Regions from separate parts of the Homo sapiens genome. Here all the other regions are linked to region 2. Evidence: fine-mapped expression QTL. A gene starts in region 2. Each other region holds a variant in brackets. All regions are shown on one strand. Distances are from middle to middle.

Evidence for each region.
Region 1: its variant is fine-mapped to the expression of CLDN9 in whole blood (TOPMed, PIP above 0.99).
Region 3: its variant is fine-mapped to the expression of CLDN9 in whole blood (GTEx, PIP 0.97).

What each region holds. Positions count from the first base shown.
Region 1 is chr16:2,956,266-2,966,345 of GRCh38, reverse strand. It overlaps KREMEN2 (kringle containing transmembrane protein 2), which reads right to left and starts at 2,071. Exons shown (of 9, transcript NM_172229.3): 1 at 1,732-2,071; 2 at 1,313-1,487; 3 at 115-206; 4 at 1-21. The coding sequence starts at 1,825. RefSeq lists enhancers at 573-692, 295-1,254, 3,223-3,352, 2,839-3,836, 3,837-4,834 and 2 more and silencers at 1,053-1,422, 1,493-1,742, 2,273-2,352, 2,903-3,032, 3,063-3,142. The variant A/G (reference allele first, on the strand shown) is at 5,124.
Region 2 is chr16:3,007,607-3,017,686 of GRCh38, reverse strand. It overlaps CLDN9 (claudin 9), which reads right to left and starts at 4,764. Exons shown (of 1, transcript NM_020982.4): 1 at 3,182-4,764. The coding sequence starts at 4,324. The coding sequence ends at 3,671. CLDN6 (claudin 6) reads left to right here. Exons shown (of 2, transcript NM_021195.5): 2 at 1,645-2,975. The coding sequence starts at 1,666. The coding sequence ends at 2,328. RefSeq lists enhancers at 1-99, 100-696, 1,916-2,480, 5,080-5,905, 8,172-9,129 and 1 more and a silencer at 3,337-3,504.
Region 3 is chr16:2,601,451-2,611,530 of GRCh38, reverse strand. It overlaps PDPK1 (3-phosphoinositide dependent protein kinase 1), which reads right to left. Exons shown (of 14, transcript NM_002613.5): 14 at 8,343-10,080. It also overlaps the pseudogene LOC652276. Among named protein-coding and RNA genes, the nearest start is that of FLJ42627, 32 kb to the left of the region's middle. RefSeq lists an enhancer at 7,620-7,959. The variant TGTCA/A (reference allele first, on the strand shown) is at 4,751.

The DNA of each region.
Region 1 (10,080 bases), 51 kb after region 2:
AGCATCCCAGGTAGCCTGGCACTGAGGGGGCAGAGTCAGACTTCCGTGACTCCGAAAACAACCCTCCTCCCAGATGCAGCAGCGTTCCCACCTCTGTCCAGCCGCGCTACTCACTGTGACAGGAGGGGATGTCGCAGTAGCGCCAGTAGATGCCCTCCTCTGTCTCAGCCACGTAGCACCACGGCTGCACGTCACCGTCTGGGTTACTGCGGGTGGGAGGGAGGTGGTGGGGCTCCCACCACCCCAAGAATAGCAAACCCAGGCCCGGCCCCGCAGCCTATGCTCAAAGTGGCCTTCAAGGCTCTGTGCCTGTGAGCGGCTGTGCTGCCTGCTGTACACCCACAAATTCCAGTTTTGTCTACGCAGAACTCTGCCTGATGAAGGAACTGGACGTCGACTTCCGAGTGGACAGCGGGAAGTCATTAAAGGGGACTTGAGAGCTGTTTTTAGGCTTCAGCTGTTGCTAGACTTGACTCCATATATGAGGACTTTGAGGCCATCTGTATTCTTCACCCCCACCCGGCATGGGCCTCAGCCACTTCCGTCCCTCAAACCCCACTTTTTTTTTTTTTTTTTGAGACGAGTCTCGCTCTGTCACCCAGGCTAGAGTGCATTGGCGCGATCTCTGCTCACTGCAAGCTCCGCCTCCCGGGTTCAAGCGATTCTCCTGCCTCAGCCTCCTGAGTAGCTGGGATTACAGGCGCCCGCCACCATGCCCCGCTAATTTTTTGTATTTTTAGTAGAAATGGGGTTTCACCATGGTAGCCAGGCTGGTCTCGAACTCCTGACCTCAGATGATCCGCCTGCCTTGGCCTCCCAAAGTGCTGGGATTACAGGCTGAGCCACCGCGCCTGGCCTCCAACCCCACTTAAAAGCAGAAGTGAGCTCCTGAGCTTTGCGGCTCTCCTCCCGCTGGGTCCATCCTGCCTCAGACCGTAGCTGTGGCTCTGAACCCCAAAATAAGTTGTATGACAAGAGCCCCACTCTGACAAGGCCCCGCCCATTCGGCCCCCGCTCTGACCAGGCCCCGCCCATACGGGTCCTTTGAGTGCCCAGGTCCGTTTCTCTCCTGGCCCTGAACTGGAGCTCTGCAGAAATTGTTCACCTGAGGAGGATCCCTTTTGCGCCAGGGTTCCGCGCGCCCCGCCCCGCCCCGCCCCGCCCCTCATTCTGGCCCCGCCCCCAGGTTCTCCAGGAGGCTGGGCTGCCAGTCCACGGCAGACCTCCACCCCGCCCGCACGGAGGCCCCGCTTCGGGCCATCCCTGCAATGGTGAGCCCAGCCTCGCCCCCAGCGCAGGCCCCGCCCCTCACCGGCAGAAGTTGTGCGCGCCCAGCCCCCAGCGGCCGTGGGGGTCGCTGGCGCTGCTGTAGCTGTGTTGCTGCGTCTGGTCCCAGAAGAGGCACGGGCGGCCCGCCCCGCGCGGGCCAGTGCGGTTCTGGTGGCCGCGGTAGTCAGCCCCATTCACCTGGAAGCATTCGGACAGGCCTGCACGGCAAAGGCAGGGCCTGGGGAGGTCCGGACCCACGCCGGGCATCCTCGCGCCCCTACGCCACCTCCCGCCTGGGTCCCCAGCCAGCGACCCCGCACCCGCCCCTGCAGGAGCCCTCGGGCTGCTCAGCTGCTCCGGCCACCTGCTCTGTCCCCCTCCCTAGCCTTGGGGGCCTGGCCCTGGGGGCGGAGGCCGAGGAAGGGGTGGTGAACACGGCCCGACAGCCGTGCGGGGACTTACCTGGACTGTGCAGGCTCCCAGCCGAGGCCCCACGCGGCTGCAGCAGCGGGAGGAAGAGGAGAAAGAGGAAGCCCTGCAGGGCTTGTGTCCCCATCGCTCTCAACCAAGGATAGGTCACCCTCGCCCGGACACGGCCCGGGCTGCCCCCGGGGTCGCTTCGGGGTCTCCCAGGAGACCTAGGGGGCGTTGTCCTCTGACAGTCTCCCCTCGTCCGACTCTGAGCCGCGCTTTCCGTCTGGGGTGGGTAAATCTCTCCTGGGGGTCTTTGCCTCCCAGGGCCTCTGCCCCTAGAGGCGTCTCTCTGTCCCTGTCCCTACCCGGGTCTCTCCGGGGGGAATCTGGCCGGGGGCGTTCTCAGTCTCTGTCTCAGCGAGCTCTGGGCGGTGCCTCAGCCTCTACGCCCGCCCCCTCCCACTGAGCCTAGCTCTCGGCGTCTCCCTCGCCCAGGTCTCCAACGGGCTGACTCCTGCCCGCCTCGCATCCCTCCGTGGGTCCCTCCCCCTGGGTCTCTCCCTCCCCCCATGGGAGGCCGGGAAGCCCCGCCCAGCACTGGAGCGGAGGCAGCAGGTCCAGACGCCTCCCACGCCCGTTCCCCCGACCCCGGGCGTCCAGCGCTTCCCGGCCCCCTCTCCCTCAGGTCGGTGCCGGTTCAAGTGGGAAGGTGTGGAGGGGGACAGGCGGGGCAAGCGGACGGAAGGCCCTTAAAATGGGAGATACAGAACCCCCTCACGTGGTCGCACGCGCCCCAGGACACCCGGAATGTCCGAGTTACAAGCGCCCTCCTCCCAGTGCACGCACGCGCTCGCACTCTCTCCCATTCATTGCCAGGCGCTCACGCGCACACTTTCTTCGGATCCGCACGCCCCTCCCGCCCCTGGTCCAGATGCCGCTGGCCTGACGGAGGAAGCTCCACTCCCTGCCCCCGCGCCCACGAGACAGGCGGGAGTCGTGGACGCTCAGTCCGGGACAGGCAGGGGCAGCTGGTGTCTGGGGAGAAAGGCAGCTGCGCCCCAGGTCCCAGTCTGTCCCCTCCTCCTCCCCCTGCCCCGCCCTTCCCTGGGACCCCCAGCCCAGACTCTCCCGAGCCTTCACACTGCAGTGGAATTCCCCCAGCCGTGCCCCCCACCTGGCGGGGGAGGGGGAGGGGAGCAGGCCCAGGCAGGCGTGGGGGGAAATTCCCCGCCCCCTCCCCCTGGGCCCGACTCCTCCGAGTCCTCTGATCTCCCAGCGCCACCCGCCCGCTGCCCCCAGGGCTTGGGGGGAGGCCAGCGCAGGTGCGTGGGAGGGCGGAGGCGGGGGCCGGGGGAAGGAACTGGTGGGGGCCGGGCGCCCAGAGCGGCCCCGCCCCGCCCAGACCTCTTTGCCCCTCAGTCCAGCCTGCCCAGCCCGCACCAGGCCCTCGCCAAGCTGTCGAGCCCAGGCCGACCAGTCCCCGCCCTGCAGCCCCCACACCGTCTCTGCCCCGGTGTCGATGGAGAAGAAAGATGGGGTTCAGGGAGGTTCTGTCAGGCCCAGGCACCCACTGCGGTGCTGGGACCCGCGAGGATCTTCCAGCTGGCGCCTCACGCGAGTGTGCTCTGGAGGAGGGGCGTGGAGCCGAGGTGGGGGCATTTGAAGGAGATGGACTTGCTGAGACTCTAGGCCAGGGTCCTGGTCGCCTCCTCCGGGAGCCCTCTCAGAGGCCAGGCTGGCCCGGCTCACTGAGCCCTGAGCTGGGGCCTCCAGCACCCACGGGCTCCCTGGAACCCAACTGCGCTTCCCGACGAGGGAGCATCCGGGACCACCTGTCTGCCCGGTTTCTCTTGGCGGGGGCTCAGTGAAGTCCTCCCGGGCTCCAGTCCACAGAGGATGTCCTAGGGGCAGGCCTGCACAATGGCGGTGCGTGGGGAGCTTCACCCCCACAGCCACAGCCATCTGAGGATGGGGCAAGGTGGCGACAGGGACAATTAAGGACTCTGTGCGGAAAGGGGGCCGGCTTGGGACGCTGGTGGAGGAATCAGCCCCTTCCCTTGAGAGAGTAGGGTCTGAAAGAACCGTCCCTCTGTCCCTGGCACTGTGACACCCGGTTCGGTTGGCCCAGGCCTGTCTCCTCCAGAGGGGGCAGGGGGTGAGAGGAAGTGGGTGCTCAGTGCTGAGGCTGGGGCACTGAGATGGAGTGGGGTGGAGTATCCCTGCGGCAAACTTCAGTCTCAGGTCACTCACGGAAACTTCCAGAACTAAGAAGCCCACCCCCCACCACTTCCCCAGCATTTGGCACTCAGGGCTCTGCAAGCAGCGGCATGTCTGCCCTCCTGACGCCCTGCGAGAGGGGACAGGCTCATCTCCCCATTCTGCAGATGGGGCGCAGAGGTGGTAACTGGGTGACTCGTGGGCGTCACCAGCTATTAAGCGTTGGAACTGGGCTTCAAGCTCCGCCTGGTCTGATCCAGGGGCTGGGCGCTGATTCATGCCTCCATGTCGCTTCCAGGGTCTCTGATTCTTCAGGGACCTCTGGGCACACAGAGATACTCTCTCACATGCTCTGAGGGGCTCCTCACCCCTCGAATGTCGTTGCCGCCAGCTGACACTTTGGAAGCAGGATCTCCAGCAGCCCATTTCACAGACAGGGAGACTGAGGCCAGACTGGGGCAGGGGTCGGCCTGGGGTCCCTAGGGCCTGACAGGCTTGGCATGTCATCTCTGAGGGAAGCAGATGCACAGGTGCAGATTGGCCACATGGGGGCGGCAGAGAGAAAGGAGCCAAAGAGGTAGGTGCAGAAGCAACCCAGGGGCCAGCCTGGCATTTCTCTCCTATGGGACATGGAACACAGGATTTGCCCTGCCCAAGTAGGGAGAAGGTGAGAAGTTGGGGGACCTGGGCAAGAGGAGGGACCAGGCCACTTTGCCCCAGTCAGCCCCCCAGGAAGGGGAGGAGCAGGCTCAGCCCTGCCCTTCTTAAGGCGGTGCAGGGTGGCCGTGTTTGAGCCCAGCCCTTTCCTGCCGGGAGCTCTGGGTCAGGGCCAGACCCGGTGCAGTCAGGACGCCTGGGTTCCACCTGGGGCTGCTCAGCTGCCCTTGGTCTTCTTGCTTTTTTTTTTTTTTTTTTTGAGACGGAGTCTTGCTCTGTCACCCAGGCTGGAACGCAGTGGCGCGATCTTGGCTCACTGCAACCTCTGCTTCCTGGGTTCAAGCGATTCTCCTGCCTTAGCCTCCCGAATAGCTGGGATTGCAGGTGGGTGCCACCACACCTGGTTAATTTTGGTATTTTTAGTAGAGACGGGGTTTTGCCATGTTGGCCAGGCTGGTCTCGAACTCATGACCTCAGGTGATCTGCCCCCCCACTCGGCCTACGAAAGTGCTAGGATTACAGGTGGGCGCCGCCACGCCTGGCTAATTTTTGAATTTTTAGTAGAG[A/G]CTTTTTTTTTTTTCTTTTTTTAGACAGAGTCGCTGTCTTGTCGCCCCGGCTGGCGTGCATTGGCGCCATCTCGGCTCACTGCAATCTTGAGATGGGGTTTTGCCATGTTGGCCAGGTTGTTCTGGAACTCCTGACCTCAGGTGATCTGCCTCCCTCGGACTCCCATAGTGCTGGGATTACAAGCGTGAGCCACCTTGCCCGGCCCTTCCTTCCTTTTTCTCATCTCTCTGGTGGTGACAGTGTTCCACCTGGGGCCCACTCCTCATGGCAGAGGCACATCAGGGCCACCAAGGCAAAAGGAAGCCCCAGAAATCTGTGGGCAGGGGGTCCCCCTGGAGGCCGCTGGGGAGGCCCTGGGAGAGATGAACCAGGCCAGGCCTCACCTCCACACTCTGTCTTCAGGAGGGCGGTGGGTCAGTGGACCACCTCTCCTGGGTGACAGCTGGATGAGGAATGGGTGGGGTAGGGGTTCGTGGGCCCCTCTGAGACCCTGAGAGCAGCCCTGGGGGATCTTTCGGGGCCTTCCCAGGGGTTCAGAAAGAGGCCCCTGCTGAGGGGCTGCAAGTCCCAGTTGTGACCTCACCCATCCTCAGCAGCAATGATACTTTGTCCTGTCCCCCTTCCTGGGACAGCTGTGTTCCTCCTGCCTGCTTCCTAGCTGCACTCCCTACCTGTGTTTACTGATCCCAGTTCCTCCAGCTCCTGCACAAACACTAGACTCATTTCCCCACTTCCCCTACATGAGGTGTGGCTAGCGGGGGAATAGCAGGAGTGGCATCTCTCAGTACTCAAAGTTCGGAGCCTGGACCAGCGCCATTATTACCGGGGAGCTTGTTAGAAATGTGGCTCTTGGGCCGGGCACGGCGGCTCACGCCCGTAATCCCAGCACTTTGGGAGGCTGAGGCAGGCGGATCACCTAAGGTTGGGAGTTCAAGACCAGCCTGACCAACATGGAGAAACCGCATCTCTACTGAAAATACAAAATTAGCCGGACGTGGGGGCTCATGCCTGTAATCCCAGCTACTTAAGAGGCTGAGGCATGAGAATCGCTTGAACCCAGGAGGCAGAGGTTGCGGTGAGCCGAGATCGTGCCACTGCACTCCAGCCTGGGCAACAAGAGCGAAACTCCGTCTCAAAGATGGAAGGAAGGAAGGAAGGAAGGAAGGAAGGAAGGAAGGTAGGTAGGTAGGTAGGTAGGTTGGTTGGTTGGTTCATTCTTGGTTGGGTGCAGTGGCTCACACCTGTAATCCCAGCACTTTGGGAGGCCGAGGTGGGCAGATCATGAGGTCAGGAGTTTGAGACCAGCCTGGCCAACATGGTGAAACCCCGTCTCTACTAAAAATACAAACAGCTGGGTATGGTGGTGCATGCCTGTAATCCCAGCTACTCGGGAGGCTGAGGCAGGAGAATCTTTTGAACCCGGCAGGCAGAGGTTGCAGTGAGCCGAGATGGCACCATTGCATTCTACCCTGGGTGACGACTGAAACTCCATGTCAAAAAAACAAAAATAAAAATAAACAAACAAATAAATAGAGACAGAGTCTACCGATGTTGCCCAGGATGGTCTGGAACTCCTGAGCTCGAGTGATCCACCACCTTGGCCTCCCAAAGTGCTAGGATGACAGGTGTGAGCCACACCATATCGGGCTAGAACACTTTCACAGGATCCCTGGAAAGTCCCTGCCAGGTCTGGCCTGCCACAGCCTCAGCTTCTCTCTTCTCCATTCACCAACTGAGCGGAGGGGATACCTTGGGGAGGGTGGAGGGAGCTGGATCCCCGAGTGACCTGGTGGAAGGTGCCTGCCAACCGGAAGTCTCGGCACAAATCTCTGAATGACTGAAAAACAAACATCTGTGGGTTAAGTCACCAAGACCGCGGGCTTGCCGGGTACGGCACCTGGCCCAGTCCCTCCTCCCTTGCCCATCCCACTCTTTTCTTCTGTGTTGCCTTCCTTGGTTGTGGAAGCCTCACTCTCACTGCCTTCATCTTCACACGGTGTTCTTCATGTGTGCAGCTCTGTGTCCAAATTCCACCCCTGCCCTGTCACCTTTTATTTCTTTTCTTTTTTTTTTATTTTGAGATAGGGTCTTGCTCTGTCGCCCAGGCTGGAATGCAGTGGTGTGATCATGGCTCACTGCAGCCTCAGTCTCCTGGCCTCAAGCAATTCTCTCACCTCAGCCTTCCAAGTAGCCAGGACCACAGGGGCGTGCTGCCACATTCAGCTAATTTTTTTTTTTTTTTTTTTTGAGATGTAGAATCGCTCTGTCGCCCAGGCTGGAATGCAGTGGCATGATCTCGGCTCACTGCGACCTCCGCCTCCCAGGTTCAAACACTTCTCTGCCTCAGCCTCAGCCTCCCGAGTAGCTGGGATTACAGACATGTGCCACCACACCCGGCTAATTTTTGTATATTTAGTAGGGACAGGGTTTCACCATCTTGGCCAGGCTGGTCTTGAACTCCTGACCTTGTGATCCACCTGCCTCGGCCTCCCAAAGTGCTGGGATTACAGGTGTGAGCCACCGCGCCCGGCCAGCTTATTTATTTATTTTTGAGACGGAATTTCGCTCTTGTTGGCCAGTCTGGAGTGCAATGGCGTGATCTTCGCTCACTGCAACCTCTACCTCTTGGGTTCAAGAGATTCTCCTGCCTCAGTCTCCTGAGTAGCTGGAATTACAGGCGTCTACCACCACGCCCGGCTACTTTTCTGTATTTTTAGTAGAGATAGGGTTTTACCATATTGGCCAGGCCGGTCTCGAACTCCTGACCTCAGGTGATCCACCCACCTCAGCCTCCCAGAGTTCTGGGATTACAGGCATGAGCCACCACGCCTGGCCTTATTTTTTTATTTTATTCAATTAATTAATTTATTTTTGAGACGGAGTCTTGCACTATGGCCCAGGCTGGAGCGCAGTGGTGTGATCTGGGCTCACTGCAACCTCCGCCTCCCGGGTTCAAGCGGTTATCGTGCCTCAGCCTCCAAAGTTTCTGGGATCACAGGCATCTACCACCACGCCCAGCTAATTTTTTGTAGTTTTAGTAGAGATGGTGTTTCACTATGTTGGGCAGGCTGGTCTCAAACTCCTGACCTTGTGATCCACCCACCTCGTCCTCCCAAAGTGCTGGGATTACAGGCTTGAGCCACTGTGCCCGGCCCCTATTTTTTTATTTTAAATGGGGTTTCGCTATGTTGCCCAGGCTGGTCTTGAACTGCTGGGCTCAAGCGATCCGCCTGCCTCAGCCTCCCAAAGTGCTGGGATTACAGGCGTGAGCCACCACGCCTGGCCTCCACATGTGAATTTTATTTATTTATTTTTACGTATATATATATTTTTGAGACAGATTCTCGCTCTGTCACCCGGGCTGAAGGGCAATGGTGCCATCTGGGCTCACTACAACCTCCGCCTCCTGGGTTCAAGTGATTCTCCTGCCTCAGCCTCCCGAGAAGGTGGGATCACAGGTACCCGCCACCACATCCGGCTAGTTTTTGTATTTTTAGTAGAGACGGGGTTTCGCCATGTTGGCCAGGCTGGTCTCGAACTCCCAACCTCAAGTCATCCACTTGCCTTGGCCTCCCAAAGTGCTGGCATTACAGGCGTGAGCCACTGCACCTGGCCTCAACATGTAAATTTTAGAGGACACAACTTAACGTGTAACATCTCTTAACAATCTCTGGTCTCTTTTACACCCTGGCTGGAACCTCCTGCTCTTGCCTGGACAACTGCTCACCCGATTGACGTCTAACTCCTCACACTCACCCTTTGCCATCCTTGCCAGCAACCAGTCTTTTCTCTGGTAATTAAACACTGAACTATCAGATACATGACTGGAGAGTCATTAAACATTAAATCAGATTGTGTCTCTGGTCCGATAAGAATCCTCTGGAAACTGGCCAGGCTCAGGTGCTCACGCCTGTAACCCCAGCACTTTGGGAGGCCGAGGTGGGTGGATCACTTGAGGTCAGGAGTTCGAGACCAGCCTGGCCAACATGGTGAAACACCATCTCTACTAAAAATGCGAAAATTAGCTAGACGTGGTGACACACGCCTGTAATCCCATCTACTTAAGAGGCTGAGGCAAAAGAATCCCTTGACCCTGGGAGGCGGAGGTTTCAGTGAGCCAAGATCGCGCCACTGCACTCCAGGCTGGGTGAGGGAGCAGGGGCAAAAAAAAAAAAGAATGCTCTGGAAGCTCTCAGAACACTTCAAGGTGCTGCCTGGGCTGGCTCATGCCTCCCTCCGTGACCTCACCCCCACCACATTCCCCACACCCCAGCATGATCTCCTCCTGGTTTTCCAGGTCCGGTCCTTTCTCCGCTCTGGGCTGCTGTACTGCGGTTCCCTCAGCCTGATGTGCTTCTCCCTACATCTTCACTTAATAAATTTGTGCTGCGGAGCTCAGAGCTGCCTCCTCTGAGAAGCATTCCTTGATCTCTACCCCTCCAGCCTGCTGTCTGCCCCGCCCGCCATTGCCTCCTTAGCTGCCTGGTTCCTCTGCGCCTCCCCCACCACCTGAGGAATGGGTGACAGTGGGACACAGCAGGGGGCGAGATGACCAAAGCCAGGCTTATTTCGGTGGGATGGGGTCACTTGCTGCCGGCTTGTCCTAGATGCTCTGGTCACCAGCGTGGGCAGAGCCAGGGAGGGGCCCTGATTTGGAAACTCAGAGTTCAACTCAGCCCTTGAGCTCCTGGGTGGATTTGAAGGGGTTTTCCCATGGGGATGCTGGATGACTGGCTGTCACCCCAGTGGCTTGGCCTGCAGGACCCGCCCTTCTCAGATGAGGACCCCAAGGCTGGCAGGGCCCGGGAGTGCCCAGGGCTGGCTGGCTTCATTTGGGCCCCAGGCCAGTCGGCTCGGAATGGCTGCTGGGGCGCTAGCGGCCTTGGCCTCCAAAATGTCTGCAAGAGTTGCTGGAAGCTGCCCTGCCCTGGCTGGGCTGGGGCTCTTTCTGAATGC
Region 2 (10,080 bases):
CGCCTATACCAGCGCGGCCCCGACCCTAACTCGGCCAGAGGCCTAAGGGCCGGACCTGAGCGCTGGGGCACCGTGCCCCAGCCAGTCTCCCCAAGGTGGTCTGCTCCGCCCAGGCCTGGGGCCCCCGGCTAATGAGTAGAGCCTGCCCTCCGACCGCTGCCGGCCGGGAAAAGTTTAGGTCCAAGCCGTACAATGAAAGTACTCTGGGCAGTGGGAGGCCACAGCCCGGCCCTAGTCAGAAGTGATTCCCTCCACGACCTCCAACACTGAGGGGACACAGGTGCAGGCCAGGTGGCGGTGGGAGAACTGGTGTTGAGGGGAGTCTAGCACGGCATTTTCGTCTAGAATTCATAGGAAAAGGCCCTCAGCCTTGAGGCTATGCTCTCCGGCGCCTAGGGCAGGTCAGAAGGGTGGGGCCAGGGAGTTATCCACTGGCTTTGGGGGAGGAACTGCTTTTAGATGGGGGATTAATGATGCTTTTCTTCATCTCTCCTGGTCCTGGTGTCTGCCAGCCTGGGGTGTGGAACCAAGTTGTGAGGGACATTGGGTGGTGGGAGGAAGCTTAGGATCTCCAATCTTAGTGTTGAAATTAACAAGTTTTGGTTGGGCACGGTGGCTCACACCTGTAATCCCAGCACTTTGGGAGGCTTGAGGCGGGCAGATCACCTGAGGTCAGGAGTTCGAGACCCGCCTGGCCAACTTGATGAAACCCTGTTTCTACTAAAAATACAAAAATTAAGACCAGGTGTGGTGGCTCATGCCTGTAATCCCAGCACTCTGGGAGGCTGAGGCGGGAGGATCACGAAGTCAGGAGATCGAGACCATCCTGGCTAACACAGTGAAACCCCGTCTCTACTAAAAATACAAAAAAATTAGCCGGGCGTGGTGGTGAGCGCCTGTAGTCCCAGCTACTCGGGAGGCTGAGGCAGGAGAATGGCGTGAACCGGGGAGGCAGAACTTGCAGTGAGCCGAGATCCCGCCACTGCACTCCAGGCTGGGCGACAGAGCGAGACTCCGTCTTAAAAAAAAAAAAAAAAAATTAGCCGGGCGTGGTGGTGTGCACCTGTAATCCCAGCTACTTGGGAGGCTGAGGCAGGAGAATCGCTTGAACCTGGGAGGCAGAGGTTGCAGTGAGTGGAGATGGCACCACTGCACTCTAGCCTGGGCCACAGAGCGAGACTCCTCGTCTCAAACAAACAAACAAAACAAATGGACAAGTTTTGAGCCTTAAACTCAGGGCTAGAATTGAACCATTCTACACGGAAACTGCTTGGAAATCGCACCGTCCTGTCATCCTGCTTTTTGCCGCCTTGCAGCCTGATCACTGGCTCTGGCCTTGGACTGTCATTGTATAGGTTTCATCCTGTTATCTTTCATTTGCATTCAGGATAGCCAGGGCAGGGCTGCTTGCACAGTCACTGTCATCAGCCAGTGCCTGTCACATAACTAGAAAGAATAATAAATGCTAAAGCATTAAGTGTCCATTTTGCCCACGAGAAGTGAGGCTCAGGGAGCATGTCTTGACTGAGTTCCAGGATGTGATGACCACTTTCCAGGGTGCATGCCCCTAGAGTCCTGTCCACATGTGGCCTGAGGTCTGGGCCTGCCAGGCCTCACCTTGTTGTGCTTCTGTCCCAAACACAGTGCAGCTCCTTCAACCTCGCCATGGCCTCTGCCGGAATGCAGATCCTGGGAGTCGTCCTGACACTGCTGGGCTGGGTGAATGGCCTGGTCTCCTGTGCCCTGCCCATGTGGAAGGTGACCGCTTTCATCGGCAACAGCATCGTGGTGGCCCAGGTGGTGTGGGAGGGCCTGTGGATGTCCTGCGTGGTGCAGAGCACCGGCCAGATGCAGTGCAAGGTGTACGACTCACTGCTGGCGCTGCCACAGGACCTGCAGGCTGCACGTGCCCTCTGTGTCATCGCCCTCCTTGTGGCCCTGTTCGGCTTGCTGGTCTACCTTGCTGGGGCCAAGTGTACCACCTGTGTGGAGGAGAAGGATTCCAAGGCCCGCCTGGTGCTCACCTCTGGGATTGTCTTTGTCATCTCAGGGGTCCTGACGCTAATCCCCGTGTGCTGGACGGCGCATGCCATCATCCGGGACTTCTATAACCCCCTGGTGGCTGAGGCCCAAAAGCGGGAGCTGGGGGCCTCCCTCTACTTGGGCTGGGCGGCCTCAGGCCTTTTGTTGCTGGGTGGGGGGTTGCTGTGCTGCACTTGCCCCTCGGGGGGGTCCCAGGGCCCCAGCCATTACATGGCCCGCTACTCAACATCTGCCCCTGCCATCTCTCGGGGGCCCTCTGAGTACCCTACCAAGAATTACGTCTGACGTGGAGGGGAATGGGGGCTCCGCTGGCGCTAGAGCCATCCAGAAGTGGCAGTGCCCAACAGCTTTGGGATGGGTTCGTACCTTTTGTTTCTGCCTCCTGCTATTTTTCTTTTGACTGAGGATATTTAAAATTCATTTGAAAACTGAGCCAAGGTGTTGACTCAGACTCTCACTTAGGCTCTGCTGTTTCTCACCCTTGGATGATGGAGCCAAAGAGGGGATGCTTTGAGATTCTGGATCTTGACATGCCCATCTTAGAAGCCAGTCAAGCTATGGAACTAATGCGGAGGCTGCTTGCTGTGCTGGCTTTGCAACAAGACAGACTGTCCCCAAGAGTTCCTGCTGCTGCTGGGGGCTGGGCTTCCCTAGATGTCACTGGACAGCTGCCCCCCATCCTACTCAGGTCTCTGGAGCTCCTCTCTTCACCCCTGGAAAAACAAATGATCTGTTAACAAAGGACTGCCCACCTCCGGAACTTCTGACCTCTGTTTCCTCCGTCCTGATAAGACGTCCACCCCCCAGGGCCAGGTCCCAGCTATGTAGACCCCCGCCCCCACCTCCAACACTGCACCCTTCTGCCCTGCCCCCCTCGTCTCACCCCCTTTACACTCACATTTTTATCAAATAAAGCATGTTTTGTTAGTGCATTTGGTGTTGCAGCGGGTTACTGAGTGCCCACCCTGGCTAGGGGAAGAGATGGGCATAAGTGAGTCACGATCCCCTCTCCCCGTGGCTTGAGTGAGCATACCCACCAGGCAGAACCTAGAGCCAGACCTTGGCCTGACAGCCACCAAGGGAGGCCACCTGGCTGTGCCTGCCCAGCCCCAGCGGCGGCGCACAGATTAGAGGGAGCCCAGTTACAAATGCTCTTTATTTCCAACTCGAGGGTGGGGATGTTGGGGAGAGGGAGGTGATGGGCAGGCCCTCCCTGACAACTCCAGGGTTGGGAGGGCATGGTCTGCTCCCTGGTTTTGGAGCCAACGAGCTGCTGCTGTTTTGGTGAGGCCAGGGTTCCTGGGGCAGGGGAGGGCTCAGAAGAGAAGGAAGGCCAGCCAGTGTCCTGGGCAACGGAAGGAAACAATTACTGGGGAGGTGGGGGCAGGCCAGGGTTCCCAACACCTCTAGGCTGCCCAACTTGGGGGAGAACATCAAAGGGGACCCCACTGAGAAGAGCTCAGCCAGGCCAGCTGACCCAGCCCTGCAGCCAGGTGTAGCTTGGGCTTTTGGAAAGTGGGTTTTCCTGGGGAAGGAGGTTGTGATGGAGCAGGGCATCTGGTCATCAGGCCAAGGTCGAAAGGGCGGGGCAGTGGGGAGCAGTGGGCTCCCAGGGGAAACCTCCGCCTCACACGTAGTCCCTCTTGTCCAGTCCAGATGCACCCGAGCGGGAGGGGATGGAGTAGCCCAGCCGAGGTCCGCGGGGCCGCTCGACCTGGGGCGGGGGGCACGTGCAGCAGAGGAGCCCCCCGCCCAGCATAAGCAGTGCAGCCGCCGCCCAGCCCAGGTAGAGGGAGGCCCCCAGCTCCCGCTTGAGGGCCTCAGCCACCAGGGGGTTGTAGAAGTCCTGGATGATGGCGTGCGCCGTCCAGCACACAGGGATGAGCACCAGGATGCCGGCGAGGAGGAGGATGACCCCCGCGGTGAGCACGATACGGGCCTTGGCACCTTCGTCCTCCACACACGTGGTACACTGGGCACCTGTGATGGCCACCAGGAGGCCAAGCAGGGCCAGCAGGAGGGCAATGACACAGAGGGCACGTGCGGCCTGCAGGTCCTGCGGCAGAGCCAGCAGTGAGTCGTACACCTTGCACTGCATCTGGCCCGTGCTCTGCACCACGCAGGACATCCACAGGCCCTCCCACACCACCTGGGCCACCACGATGCTGTTGCCGATGAAGGCGGTCACCTTCCACAGGGGCAGGGCGCAGGACACCAGGGTCCCCAGCCAGCCCAGCACAGCCAGGGTCATGCCCAGCAGTTCTAAGCCGGTCGAAGCCATCTGGCCCCTCGGTTAGGTCTTCTCAGCCCCAGGCGGCCTAGGTGACTCAGAGGGTGTGTCTGGTGTGCTGGGTGGGTGTCTCTGTGTCCAGCAGGAGGGGGAAGGCTTGTTGGTGTCCCCAAGCCAGGCCAGTCCTCAGTTCCATGAAAGGCGCCTCTTGAAAGGCGCCTCCTCTCCGTGCCTCTTGCAGGTGTTTCTGGTCCTCGCGGAGCACAAAGCAGACTCGTAGTCCCGCTCGGCTGAGTGGTGGGTGTCACCTCGAGGGGCCTCCGCCCATCGGATGCCCTGAGGGTGCTGCTGCTCTTACCACCCCGCTGTCACACCTGGGCTGAGCTCGCACAGGCCCTCCAGACGCACTGCCAGGCTGAGGACAGCCACGTCTCCTGCCGGCTGGCGCAGGTTCCCACTGAGCGACTCTGACAGTGCCACCTGGGGACTCTGCGGGCTCTCGGCTGCAGGCGGGGTTTTAAGGCCCAGGCAGGGGAGGAGCAGAGTGAAGTGCAGGGAGGCCGGGATAGGGGAGACCTGAGCCACGGGGAGGGTGCGGGGCTGGGGGTTCGTGGGCAGCGGATGGATGAGGGGCCTGGGGGCCAGCGGGGGATGCTGCGGCTGAGTGGGGACAGGGGAGGAAAAGCGTCCGTAGCATCTGTGCATGTGGGAACCAAGGGTAAAGGAGGGGAAGATGGAGGACAAGCTGAGGAAGAAGAGACGGATCGGGGGTCAAAAAAGTAACAGGCTCAGGACAGAAACACACACAGGGGGCGTCGGCTTGCCTTCCTGAGCCTCCTCCTTCCGCAGCCCCTCCCCAGCTGCCTCTGCTCTCCCCCAGCCGAGTTTCGTGATGCAAACATGCCCCAGCTCCCCGAGTATCGCACACTCCCGCCCGCCTGGGACTCTCTGGAATCTGATCCATCCCCCGTCTCAGCCCAGTGGCCCCGCTAGCTCCCGGGGGAAGGTCCCCGCCTGCACTGTTCCCCAGACGACAGGTGCCTGGCGCCCAGCTCAGGTGGCATCGCCCTGGCAACGGCCTAGAAAACTACCCCCCACTTCAACCTCAGCTCAGGTGCGCTCTTGCCACCCCTGCTGCTGAAACCGAGGCTGAGCTGAGCTGCCTAAGATCTCCAGAGGCCAGAGGATGAGGGGCCTGTTGTGGAGGTTGGGGGGCACTCAGGAAGGGGGATGGAGGCGGGACGGGCTGGGGCTGGAACCCAGGGTGGGGCACAGCCCAGGACCCGGTTATGTTCCATGGGTGGGTGAGTGAGTGGCCAGTCAGGCCTCCCGGGCCAAAACACCCCAGAGGTGGGCACGGGGGTTAAGTCCAGGGACTCAAGTGTCCCCAAGACCTGCCTTCCAGTTTGCAGGAAAGCCTTACCTCCGGAAAAACCCCCTCAGAGCCTGTGATTCCACTCATGGGGACAGCCTGGGAGTCCCACTGACCAAAGCTCAAATCCTGACCCCTACCTGGGACAGGTCATGGAAGGTCGAGGTCCTTAACCTCCTTTGGTCAAAGACCCACTTGAGAAACCCCGTGGGACTCACAGAACATGCACCCACAAACATGTGCCCCTCATTTGTGGGGGAGGGTTCATGAACTCCTTCAAGCCCCTGCCTGGGTGCTAAGAACCTCTGAGGATTGTTGTCTGAAAAAGGGGTGTGACGGCCAGGTGCGGTGGCTCACGCCTGTAATCCCAACACTTTGGGAGGCCAAGGTGGGCGATTCACGAGGTCAGGAGTTCGAGACCAGCCTGGCCAACATGGTGAAACCCCGTCTCTACTAAAAATACAAAAAATTAGATATCCCAGCACTTTGGGAGGCCGAAGCAGGTAAATCGGAAGGTTAAGAGATCGAGACCATCCTGGCCAACATGGTGAAACCCCGTCTCTACTAAAAATACAAAAATTAGCTGGGCGTGGTGGCACAAGCCTCTAGTCCCAGCCACTCGCCACTCTGGAGGCTGAGGCAAGAGAATCACTTGAAACCGGGAGGTAGAGGTTGCAGTGAGCCAAGATCGTACCACTCCACTCCACTCCAGCCTGGCGACAGAGAGAGACTCCTCAAAAAAAAAAAAAAAAAAAATTAGCTGGGCGTGGTGGCGGGTGCCTGTAATCCCAGCTACTTGGGAGGCTGAGGCAGAAGAATCGCTTGAACCGGAGGCAGAGGTTGCAGTGAGCCGAGATCGCACCACTGCATTCCAGCCTGGGTGACAGTGGGAGACTCTGTCTCAAAAAAAAAAAAAAAAAAAAAGGAAAAGGGATGTGAGGAACATTGTCTCCATTCATACACTTTCCAGGGAGGTACAGAGGATCCTCAGAGTGGGCCCTCACCTGGGACTGCCTCTCACCTGCCTGGTGCTGGGAGGGCTGGGGTGTGCTGGAGCCCACTGGCCAGTGCGGGCAGGGCTGGAGGTGCCCACCACACACATCTGGTGGCTGCACCACTTCACGGCATTGCCTTCGGGGAGCCAGTGGCCAGGCACACCCCTGCTCAGTGCCCCTCACCTAGTGGGTGGGACATTGTGTATAAAGGGCTCTAACCTCAAGGAGCGGTCAGGGTTCAAACCTAGGGGTATGAGCATCGCTTCTGCGAAAGGGTTTTAGCATCTTTTGGGTCCGGGCACTGAGGCTCACGCCTGTAATCCCAGCGCTTAAGAGGCCAAGGTGGGAGGATTGCTTAAGGCCAGGAGCTTGAGACCCACCTGGGCAACACAGTGAGACCCCATTTCTAAAATAAAAAAAAAATATATATATATATATATACACAAAAATTAGCTGAGTTAGGTGGTTCCTGTCTGTAGTCCCAGCTACTCGGGAGGCTGAGGTAGGAGGATCTCTTGAGCCTAGGAGTTAGAGTCTGCAGTGAGCTATGATTATGCCACCGCACTCCATCCTAGGTGAGACCCTGTCTCTTAAAAAAAATGATACTTTTGGAAGAGAGATTTATACTTTCCTTCAGATTTGCAAAGGGGCCTTGACCCAAAACAGCTTAAGATCCTCCCCTGCAAACACAGAGACAGGCCAGCGCCAATCAGCTGGTCTGTAAGGTAAACAGAAGCCTGGCCTCCTCTTCACCACCCCCTGGGCCTCTCCACTGAGGGGGGCTCCTCCGGTACGAGGGGGGCTGACCTGGTGGCCCCACAGAGTCTGGAAGATGGGGGGGTGATACAGAGGCTGGAAAATGGCCATCAGTGGACTCAGGGAATCTTGTGGCAGGTTTGTCCAGCTCACCCAGCCCCTGGGGCTCAGATTTCACAGGGTTGGGGTGGGGAGAGCAGAGATTGCAGACGGAGGCAAGCCGGTCAGCGGGCTCCCTCGCAGCCTTCCAGGGGCCTCCAGGAATCCAGCCACACAGGTTTGGGCAGCTGTCAGGAGGCAGCAGCAAGCCTGCCTCCCTGGAAGTCCCCCCACCCAGCAGCCCCAACCCAGGGGCTATTCTCTTCCCTGGGCCGGAACAAGTCCTCCTTGTCCTAGGGCCTAAGGTGATCGGCTCATCCCACTTTTTTGAGGGACATTCCCAGCTTGAATATTGGGTCCTCCAGGGAAACCGGGACGGCTGGTCCACTTGCTGTCGGGCCCTGCCTCGGTGACTCACCGGTTCCACATTCAGCTCTAAACCCCTACGTTGTAGCCCAGTGGCGGGCTGCACACATCCAGTGAGCGCTGTGCCCGGAAAGGGCATAAGAGGACCCCAGGGGTTTTTTTGTTTGTGTTTTGAGACGGAGTTTTGCGCTTGTTGCCCAGGCTGGAGTGCAATGGCACAATCTCGGCTTACTGCAACCTCTGCCTCCTGGGTTCAAGCTGTTCTCCTGCCTCAGCCTCTCAAGTAGCTGAGATTACAGGCATGCGCCACCACACCCGGCTATTTTTTTTCTTTTTTTGTATTTAGCAGAGACGGGGTTTCACCATGTTGGTCTGGCTGGTCTGCGAACTCCTGATCTCAGGTGATCCGCCTGCCTCAGCCTTCCAAAGTGCTGGGATTACAGGCAAGCGCCACCGCACTTGCTCGGGGACCCCAGGTTTGTGTTTTGTTTTGTTTTGTTTTGTTTTTTTGAGACGGAATCTCGCTCTGTTGCCCAGGCTGGAGTGCAGTGATGTGATCTCGGCTCACTGCGACCTCTGCCCGCTGGATTCAAGCGATTCTCCTGCCTCAGCCTCCCGAGTAGCTGGAACTACAGACATGTGCCAACACACCCGGCTAATTTTTGTATTTTTATTAGAGACGGGGTTTCACCATATTGGCCAGGCTGGTCTCGAACTCCTGATCTCGTGATCTGCCTGCCTCGGCCTCCCAAACTGCTAGGATTAGAGGTGTGAGCCACCGCATCCAGCCGACCCCAGGTTTTTAAGACCCCAATTCCTCTTTGGCCCAACATCTCCACACCGGAGCAAGAAGGAAAGCAAGCCCACACTCCAGGGACTAGCCAGCAGAGTGGGTGGAGGCTGCTCAGCAAATGCGCACACCCCCACCTCAGTGACCAACCCACTGGACTTGCCTTCACAGTGGCCCTGTGCGGCTTCAGGCTCCTCCCACCCCAAGTCTCTAAGATAAAACACAGTATCTCCCCAAGCCCCTTGGGGAGAGTAAAAGTGGAGAAACATCTTGGAGCCTAGGAGAGGCTGGAAGAGGGTGGTTGGGGAGCTGCCCATGGTGGGAGGATTCCCAGGACACATGGGTAGCAATTAGCCTGTTGTCCTCAGCCCTCACTAGACCTAGGTTGGGAGGTCCTAGACCCTCTCCTAGGCCCCCGTGCACCTGGATTCAGTTGGATCTTGGGAAAGGAAGGGTTAAGGTTGGGGCCTAATCAGGGACTGGAATGCCATTGATATGGAAAAGTGGGGGCCCCTTGGTGTGGTTACCATCTCAATGGCACTTTAACACCTCCAGCGAAGTCCCCTCCCCCATCCACCACGTCTGGGAAAAGAGGTGGGGGAGGGGAACCTTCCCCACTGTACTACCCTGGGAGGAAAGGAAGCCGGCTCTCCACCAGTCCCTTCCTGGAGCGACAAAATGGACCTCGTTTTTGTTCCGTCTAGGAGGAAAGAGGGGCAGGGAGGCTCAGGTGGGCAGAAGAAACCAGAGATCAGCTTAGATAGGGTCGAAGTGGGTTAACCCGCGCCTCTTAGAGGGGGAAGTGTGGCCTGACCACAAAGGAAAGGAAGGAAGTTACCAGGAGCTACCATGCGCCAGGAACAGTGCGGGGGTGGGTGTGGGGGCAGCACACTAAGAACCCCAAGGGCAGAGTCACCCACTGCGCCCGGAGGAGCCAAGACCCAGATCTTACAGGTAGAGAAGCTGGTCCCCTAGCTCCCAAACCAAAAGGTGCAGCTAAATCTCGGTGTTGCAGCTGTCACCCTCACGGGCTCACTGCCCACCTTCACAGACAGGAACAAGCTCAGGGAGCTGAGCGAACCTGACCAAGTGCACAGCGGGAAGCAGGACACACCTGACACCAACCCAGACCCTGACTTTGGAGCTAGCCCCCCTAGGTGGGCTAAGAGAGCCTCCTGAACCTCTTTCCCGACAGGGCAGCGGGGCAGGGCCTCTCCTTCTTCTGGGCCTCCCAAGCACCATCCCGTTCCTCCTTGTCCCAAATTCTTCGAGGCTCCCAGTACAGGGAAACCTCTGCAGAAAACTGCATTTGGATCTGATTACGGAAGAGGCCCCCTCCACCAGCTGGCTCACTCTCATTGCCATGTCCCTGGCAAGGGAAGTGCCCTTTGCTCCCCACTTGCAGGGGGCAGCGGGCTGGACTCCCAGA
Region 3 (10,080 bases), 410 kb after region 2:
TCTCACCACTGTGCTCTTTTGAGGCTTTCAGTGGCTGATTTCCACATTCACAGTAAGTGCTGGGGTCTGAAACCAACACTCTTCAATCCTACCAGGGTTCAGGTCTCGCTGAGGCCTGACTCGCATCCATATACGTGCAGGGTGTCGGTGCTTTGAGCTCGGGTGAGCCACGTGCTCCAGATTGGCCTAGTGCGTGCAGGGTCTACTCATGGCACCAGCCCAGGCCCAGACAGTGCCAAGCTCAGGCGCAAGGGCCTTGGCAGCTCACTGCTTGTGTCAGGGATGTGGCTCAATAGCCTCCACCCTGATGCAGAAACAAAAATATGGAACATGGGGAGTACAAAAACATAAAAAATTCAGGATATACTCCTAGGCTCACGGAGACAAAGGGAGCAAGGTCACCTCACGGATGTTCAGAACAGTGCCTGAGCCGACCCAGGTAAGGCCCCTGTGCTGCCCACAAGGCCATCAGCGGTACCTGCCCAAGGAGGGAAAGATGCCCCAGCCCGGCCATGCCTCTAAGATGGGTGAGGAGAGGTGGCCAGGAAGCCAGCGGGATGCTGCGGGCCGGGCGTGGGGGTGCTCTTCTTCCTGCGGGCCCGGCGTGAGGGTGCTCTTCTTCCCACGGGCGGGGAGTGGGGTTGCTCTTCTTCACGCGGGTGGGGTGTGGGGGTGCTCTTCCTCTTCTTCCTGGCTTTCCCGTGTGTCCCACGGCTTACACAACCAGCACAGGCTGCGCTCGATTCTCGCAAAGGTTCGTGGTGGTTTTTTTTTTTGTAAGACAGCCCTAATTGGCTGGGTGTGGTGGCTCACACCTGTAATCCCAGCACTTTGGGAGGCCAAGGTGGGCGGATCACGAGGTCAGGAGTTTGAGACTGGCCTGGCCAACATGGTGAAACCATCTCTACTAAAAATATAAAACTTAGCTGTGTGTGGTGGTGCATGCCTGTAATCCCAGCTACTCAGGAGACTGAAGGAGGAGACTCGCTTGAACCCAGGTGGCAGAGGTTGTGGTGAGCCAAGATTGTGCCATTGTACTCCAGCTTGGGCAACAAGAACAAAACTCCGTCTGAAAAAAAAAAGCCATAATTAAGACTTTTCTTAGCAAGTCATCTCCCTCATCTTCCCCGCACCTTGCTGAACCGGCATCTGACCTACTTGGGGCCGGGCCCAAGCTGGTATTGGGTGGGCCCAGCAGGCTGGGTTGACCCACCCATCTCCAGGGGTCACAGCCTTCAGCCGGAGCCACCCACCGCAGGCCAGGCAGGCCGGTTTCCAAACCATAGAGGAGAAGAGGGATCCTGGCCACACCAAGAGCAGGAGCCAAGGTTGTCTCCTGGAGAGGAGCGCACGGGAGGCAGCGCCAAGCCAGGGCACACACAGTCTCAGGAGGTAGAAGAAGATCCCACAGACAGAGCTGGCTGCCCCCTCCCCAAGTCCACAGGACAAACACAGAGGGAAGTCTGTTTAGGAGAGCAGCACTCAGAGAAGGCTGGTGAGAAGCCTGCCCACTCTGCTCATGTCACCAGACTCCGGCTGCAGCCCTCAACCCTCCATGCTGTCACCCAGCAAGCAAAGCACCAGAGACAACATGGGGGCACCCCAGCCCCTGAGGAACAGGTCCCTAATGCAACCACCAGCCTTGAAAATGGCAGTGAAGGGCTGGGCTTGGTGGCTCACGCCTGTAATCTCAGCACTTTGGGAGGCCGAGGCGGGCGGATTATCTGAGGTCAGGAGTTGAAGACCAGCCTGACCAACATGGTGAAACCCTGTCTCTACTAAAAATACACAAATTAGCCAGGCTTGGTGGAGGGTGCCTCTAATCCCAGCTACTAGGGAGGCTGAGGCAGGACAATCACTTGAACCTGACAGCCCCGTTGCAGTGAGCCAAAATTGTGCATTACACTCCAGCCTGGGCGATCCAGTGAGCCTCTGTCTCAAAAAAAAAAAAAACGGCAGTGAGGAATGAGGGTGGAGACTGCCAGGCTCTCACGCCAGATTCTGAACCCAACATAACCCTGCTGCTGCCCAACCCTCCCGCAGCTCCCAGAGCTCTGCAAAGAGGGTCGGCCCTGCGGCTCTCAGTCATTCCCGGTGCTCGGAGACACGTGCCACCAGAGGGGAACGAAATCAAGAGGGTGCAGTGCCCTGAGCCAATCCAGGAGATAAACTCTGTCAAATTGCCCCACAGAAATCTAGACGCGAAGGCATAGAATTTCCTGTGCACCAACATCTGCAATCAACCTAATTAGAAATACTTAGTTTTTACTCTGAAATTATCCATTTCAAGTGACTCTGTTTCAATTTCGCACACAAAACCTTCACCTCTACTCTCTCTTCTGTTTTGTTTTATGCAGCTGTGGCATATCTTTGGCCCACAAGAGGACTTTGATGTCACCAATTACTAATGGGGAAACTGAGGCCAGAGACCAAGGAGGCTTGTCCAAGGCAGCCAGATTCGGAGAGCAGGGTGGGGCCCCTGTGCCCTGGTCGCCAGGCCTGCTGCCTCCCCACCACCCTTCCCTTCCATTGCTTCTCGGCCTCACCCAGCATAGAAACTGGAATTTGGGAGGTCCCTGCCCCACACATGACTCAAAGCTTAGTGAGAAGCAGACGTGTGTGGACTCACGACCTGGCCCCTCACAAGAGGTCCTGCGGCTTCTCGGGGAAGAAACATGCTTCAGGTGAACCACGGGGGGTCTTGCCAAGCCGAGGTCGCTGCAGAGAGTCCTGCTCTGCTCGGCAGGAACTGGAGCCCTCTCAGGAGCAGGGGTGTCAGGTTTCTTGCAAGAAAACTCGGGGGCTGCCCAGGAAGCCCTGCCCTCCCCACAGTGCAGGGTCCAGTCCCCAGAGGTGGAGACCCACTCAGCGGGGGCCTGTGCTGCTAGGGTCAGCCAGAGCTCTGGGTGGCAGCAGGGGGACTGGCAGGGCGAGCCACTCCTGGCCATACATGCTGCCTTCAGGGACCTCCGGTGCATCACCCGAGGCTGACAGGGCTGAGTGTGGCCAGAGGTCGACATTAACAGAAATTAAGTGTGGCTGCGGGAGGGGAAAAGCGTTCTTAGCATATCCTTCCTAAAAGTAAAGTACACTCACACCTGTAATCCCAGCACTTTGGGAGGCCGAGGTGGGCAGATCACCGGAGGTCAGGAGTTCGAGACCAGCCTGGCCAACATGGAGAAACCCCATCTCTACAGAATATATAAAAATCAGCCAGACATGATGGCTTGTGCCTGTAATCCCAGTTACTTGGGAGGCTGAGGCAAGAGAATCTCTTGAACCCAGGTGGCAGAGGTTGCAGTGAGCCCAGATAGAGGCGGGATAGAGTGAGACTCTGTCTCAAATATTTAAAAACAAAAACCAAGTACAGGCCGGGTGCAGTGGCTCATGCCTGTAATCCCAGCACTTTGGGAGGCCAAGACAGGTGGATCAGGAGGTCAGGAGATCGAGACCATCCTGGTTAACACGGTGAAACCCCGTCTCTACTAAAAATACACAAAGATTAGCCGGGCGTGGTAGCGGGTGCCTGTAGTCCCAGCTACTCAGGAGGCTGAGGCAGGAGAATGATGTCAACCCGGGAGGTGGAGCTTGCAGTGAGCTAAGATCGCGCCACTGCACTCCAGCCTGGGCAACAGAGTGAGACGCCGTCTCAAAAAAAAAACAAGTACAAACACGAAGACCTCCAGGCACAGCCTCTCCTGACTGCACTGACCTGGTGCCAGGCATGGGGCAGGGGCACCACATTTGTCATCTTCAGGGGAGGACGTCACCCTTACCTTACAGAGGAAGAAACTACAGCTCACAGGGGACGGGAAATCACCCGAAGTCACAAGGCAGGCCCGGGATGGGCACAGTCTCTCACCAGTGCTGGCTACACAGTACATCATCTGCCATCTCCACTAGACGTGATCCCCACTTCTCTTGCCAAGCGGCTTCAAAGACGGTACTCTAGCCCACACCCCATCACTGGGCCCTGTCTGAACAATTCCTTCCATAACTTTCCACCCCCGAGGTCTTGCCAACACCCAGTACACTGTTAGAGGCACCCTGACTGCCCCACCCCTCAAAGACCCATCTGATGCCACCACATCTGGAACCCTCAAGCCGGGACAACGGCCCTGTTCAAAGGGCAAAAGTTCACGTGCAGTTTTCTCCAAGGCTGCCTCAGCTGCAGGAACCGAAGCCTCCCCAAATTCTCCTCCATCTGAGTGGTTTCCAACCATAAAGCAGTAGTATTTCCTGTTTCCTTTTAACTCCTCAAGTATCTCCACACTAAAGCAGGGGCTGCTTTAGCTGGAAACAACAAACTCGACTTTGTTTTCAACAATGCCTATGGGCCGGGGACCATGCAATACAAGAGACCTAACCAAAATGAATCGAGTCTTTGGGAAGCCGTATTCCACCTGGCCTGCCCTCGAAGACACCAAGGAAGAGAAAGATGACAGAACAGCAGATGAGCAGATGCTGAAATGCTCACCACAGCCACAGTCCTGCTGGAGGAAGTCCCAGGAGGAAGTGAGAATTCACACCGGGCTGTCTAGAAAGAGAACTTTGTGGCAGCAGGTCGGCCCTTGGAACAGCAGAGTAAGGGCTTGGGAGCGTGGAGTATGGCGGGTGGTGGGTCCCAAGCTGGGCTCTGAGGACTTGGTTGGGGGCAGTCACAGCCCAGAAGCTTAGATGTGGGGCCAGAGGGCAATCAAGCCAGCCCCTTGATGTGCGTGGCTTTCACCACCCTCCCTAACAACCCGTC[TGTCA/A]AGAGCTCCCCTCCCTACCAGATAGGATGCTTTAGCAGGGTGCTCTCCCAACCTCTCAGGCACCCAAAGCTTCTATGGTTTCTTGGGAACTCCTCCCCCTTAAATCTCCCCACCCAACCCCTCTCCAGACCCCCACACTCTGCAAGCCCAGGTGCTCACTCCACACAAGTCTAATAATCCAGGCAGGGACTCTTCCACCAGATCCATGCTTAAGTCCAACTCGAGGAATATTCTTTCCTTAATCTCAACTCTGAGGTCAGGCCTTGGAGATCTTTACAGGTGAATCAACATCCTGTTTGTCTTCCAACGTGTCATTAATGGCCTCCCACTCCTGACACCCCTTCCCCCCCTCCTCAGATTCCTCAGTCAGCATTTAATTAGGAGGAATCTCCTGGGACATTCTTTCATCAGAGCCACTGGAGACAAAACTAAGATGAAGCATTTTACACATTTCCTCATTTGATGAAAAACACCGGAAAACACTTTAGTAACGTGACTAATATGAATTAGCACTACACTTTTGGCAAATTATCTGTCACTAAAACTAACCTTATTTACTCCAATTATTGTTTTCTCCTTTTCTTTTTTCTTTTTTTTTGAGACAGAGTCTCGATCTGTCGCCCATGCTGGAGTGCAGTGGCGCAACCTCAGCCCACTGTAACCTCTGCCTCCCGGTTCAAGTGGTTCTCCTGCCTCAGCCTCCCGAGTAGCTGGGAGTACAGGCACGCGCCACCATGCCCAGCTAATTTTTTTGTATTTTTAGTAGAGACGGGGTTTTGCCATGCTGGCCAGGCTGCTCTCAAACTCCTGACCTCAGGTGATTCACGCGCCTCGGCCTCCCAAAGTGCTGGGATTACAGGCGTGAGCCACCTTGCCCGGCCCCTACTCCAATTATTGTATGAGACAGAGACGACTGTATCTGCTACTTTACCTTCATGTTCTGAATTTGAGTTTTACCATTTGGAAATCAAACCTGGTTAAATGGATGATAATGAAAAGAGCAAGTATAACACAGATATATTCAGAAAGATTAATTACCCCTCGCCCAAAGAATTGATTCCTACCGTAAAGCATTTTTTTGTTTGTTTGAGACAGAGTCTTGCTCTGTCATCCAAGCTAGAGTGCAGTGGTGTGATCTTGACTCACTGCAAGCTCCGCCTCCCGGGTTCTAGCGATTCTTCTGCCTCAGCCTCCAGAGCAGCTGGGACTACAGGCGCCCGCCACCGCGCGCGGCTCATTTTTTGTATTTTTAGTAGAGACAGGGTTTCATCGTGTTAGCCAGGATGGTCTCGATCTCCTGACCTCGTGATCCGCCTGCCTCAGCCTCCCAAAGTGCTGGGATTACACACGTGAGCCACCGCGCCCACCTTTTTGTATTTTTAGTAGAGACCGGGCATCACCATATTGGCCCGGTTGGTTTTGAACGAGATCCACCTGCCTGGGCCTCCCAAAGTGTTGGGATTACAGGCATGAGCCACCGCGCCCGGCCCATAATTTTTAACAAAGTCTTAAGGAACAGTAAAGCAAAGGGATCAACCACCTTAACTGTGCTATAGTTCATCAACTGGGAATCAAGTGCTCCAGTGCTGAATAGACAACCATTGCCTCAAAGAACCCAATGGACAAGAGCAATTTAAACTCTAATTTCATATACAAAACAGGAATGCTTGAGTAGAAAGGCAAGGGAGTGACCACTAAGCCCTGTTATTTAAAAAGAAAAACCAAACAGTAAAACACACACCCACACTTATAAAAGGAAAATCACAGCTAACAAACGCCTATTTCTATCCTGGGGATGACTGTCATTTCCTGGGAGGTCAATTCTCTGAGTAGAGGGCTTGGTCAAATGAGCAATGGAAACAGTTGGAAGTTGTGGGGAGGCACAGGAGGGTTGGCATCTCAAACCCTCATTTCCACCCACAAGGCTGCCTTAGCAGTAACTCCAGATTCTCATTTCCTGATCACGGTCATGCCATGCTGAGAATGGTCTCAGTCAGGCTTCTCAAACTTGAAGAGGGATCCGAACCTTTCTGGGAAGCCTCCTGCATGGCAAATGTTGGCTGCCAAGGCACAAAGCCAAGCGCAGTCATGTAAGCTCAACTGAAAGACCCCGCAAAGTTAGTATAAGGCTTGTGAACTGCCTTGAATAAATATAGGTAACAACTTCTTCAAACAGGCTTTTTTGTGAGTTTCAATCCTGCACAACTCCCAAGACACGGTTCCTCGGCTCCACAACTCTTGATAAATAAAGGTAGCAAAAGGTTTCTATTACCATCTACCCAACAGCATGAGCATTTCGCTTGATGAAAGACAAGCTGCAAACTAACCTGGAAATTCCTGTCCTTTTGCGAAGACAGTGGGAAAACTAAGCCAATTAGAAAGCAGATTGAAAGATTCCTTACCTGGCCCTTCCTGGACATCCCTAAAGCAACCCTTAATATGAGCAAAATCCCCTTCGAAAAATCACAGTATATACTATGGACGCATCTTCTAAGAGGTGCTGAGTGGGTGCTGCGTGCTGTGGATGGAAAGGATGGAGCGCCAACTCTCTAAATACAAGTCACCAGGGAAAAAAAGGGCCGCCCATATCAACCCCCACGTCAGCGTTAATTCAAACGTCCAGAATGTGAAACGCCAAGGGTTCTGTCTCCAGAGCCAGCAAGTACCCTGGGACAGAGAAGAGAAGGCGTTCACACACCCTGGGCAAAAGAACCTAGTGAGAAAAAGAAAGTAGAATCACAGCAAAGTCCGGGGTCTCGGAAGCCTCCTCCACCAAAGAGCAAAGAGGGCGAGGAAGAGACACCCCCAAGGTGAAGCGACTCAGGATTCTCAAAGGCAGTGGACACCAGGGCGCCATCCTTGCCCTCCCCTCCCAGGATAGGGGATCGGGGCAAGCTGGGGATGAGCTGGCGACAAGGGAGTGTTGGGCTCGAAGCCCGAGGAGAGTCGCCCTCTCCTGCTGAGCTCTCCTCGGCGTGGAGCAGGGCGTGTGCGGCGGCCACAGGCCGAAATGGCCCAGGCCCTTTCGACTGGCCCACGTGGTCCTCACCTTGTCCGAGTCCGGGTCGGGGTCGGCCTGGCTCAAGAGGTACAGGAAGGATTTCGGGTCCTGACACAGCGGCGTCTGCCCAGTGGTGAGGAAGTAGGTGCCGCCGCTGTAGAGCCGGACCCACTTGGACCTGCTGCTGGGGCGCTGGGCCAGGACGCTGAGCCCCGCGCTTTAAGGGAGGCACAAGAAGCCACCCCAACCCCGCCCCGAGCCTGCCACGGGCCAGCGGCAGGAGCTCGCAGTGATTCCCCGCCATGATCCCAGCAAGCCCCACCACACCTCCGCTTCACCGGAAGAGTCCGGCTTTTAATATCGCCCTTTGCGTTCTGTCCCGCCCACTGGTCAGCCCTTGTAGAACACCCGCCGGTCACATGGCAGGCGGAAGTTCCATCCGGGAAAAGCAGCCGGCTGGTCCCACTTCCGGAGGGAGTGAAACCGAGCTTGGGGCGCCAACGCTAGCGGGCAATGGCAGACACCCGCCCCCAACCGCGCCCCCACTCCGTGGCGGGGTCAAAGGAAGAGCCACGCCAGCAAACCTCTACACTCTACATGCTTTTTATTACAAGACTACTGACCATACGAGGAAAATTCATCATCTGGTAACTACACCTAAAGCACAAGTATTTGGAAAAAAAAAAAGGATAAACAGATTCATTAAATTATATGATTAAATCACTGACCCAATAGAAAATTTATATAATAAAGCCAGAAAAAAAGTTGTAAAATATAGTTTACAATAATTATTCACATTCAAGGCTGTACATCAATACATACAACAACGTGGCCCCGAACATGAATTCAATTCAAATAATTCATATATTAGAATTTAAATAACACAGACTGAACTAGAGGCCAACAATAGCCAGCAAATAACCTTATATAAGAATAAAAATACAAAAGTGTATATCCTAGTATCATTGCATTTGTTTTCATAAGTTCTTTTAATTTTTGCTTTGTCTGTACATCACAGTTACAGCTACAGACCAGGTAGAGAATATTACGCATGTTCTGCTTGCCACCCACCTGAAAGACGTACTAGTCATTTATCCTATTTTATGTTGTGAAGGAACAGCTACAGCAGCTCTAAATACTGTAACAATTTAATTTTGCCAACATCCAACTTACTTACAGTCGTAATAGAGGCTTTTACCAGCACAATGACCCCTATTCGTAGTCATTCTGCCAGGTGGTTAGGCTATGTGGGTTACACAGCTTAAAAAAGGTCTGCCTTTTGTAAAAAGTTCTCTGTACATAGTTTGGTGTTTCTTCATATGGAAGAAATGAGTTACGGGGAAAATTCAGGTACACACGTAGGCTCGTTCAGTTGCTCACCACAGCCATCTCAACAGATGAAAGTGCTCTTTGTTGGAAACAGCTTCCTCCTCACACCAGTTCTCCACAGGCAGCCTCATCTACAACCCTGCAATTTTGGGCCAGAAGTGGTGGCCCCTCAGAGGCTCTGAAGTGCCTCCAGCCCCGATTCAGGCACTTGCCACGTGTGCTGCGTAAGAAGGGACCCCCACCCAGTGAGTCAACATAGGCTCATGTCAAGTTTGAAAATAACTGGGGAAAAGTGTATGACAACATCTTCCAGAACAAAGTACCTTCACCGTATTCTCACAGCAGCTGCGATCTCTGAAGTCTCAGCAGTGACCACCCCGGGTCTGTCAACCAGCCAGGCAAGGGGGGGCCCTCAGGCTTCAGAGGGCAAGAAACCAAATTCCGTGCAATTTGGCCATAATCTCTGGTAGAGTGAAGCAGCACTGAACACGGTGCCTAGAAAAACCTCCTGCACGTTCCCCTGCACAATCAATGGACCCCAACTACAGTGGAGAAATGAAGAATCCAACCAAATTTGGGTGGTCTGGACTTGCTGCCAGCCAGGCAATCTGCAACACTGTGGGCAGGGAGTTGGGGGGGGCGGCCTGAAATCTACACCAGCTGGGACAACCACGCCCTACAATGAAAAAGCCAGCCTGGCTGCTGGGCTCTTGTGAACCACTAAGACCTGAAGGTGGGGCCCCACGGGTGGAAGGGGGAGACAAATGCACTCTTGTAAAACCCAATCAGCTACGTGGTTTTTTTCAAAGAGGCTTTGCTCTGCTACTGATTCCAAATGTCCTAATATACCTTCTGAGTCTATAAACTTAATTACAAATCACTCACTAAGCATGTGGCAAGGTCAGTTCAACACTTGTTATCTCTGCTGACTGTGCAGATGCAAATTCAGTACCATTGTGGACACGAAGTACAAGATTCTGCCAAGCGCTTGAAAGC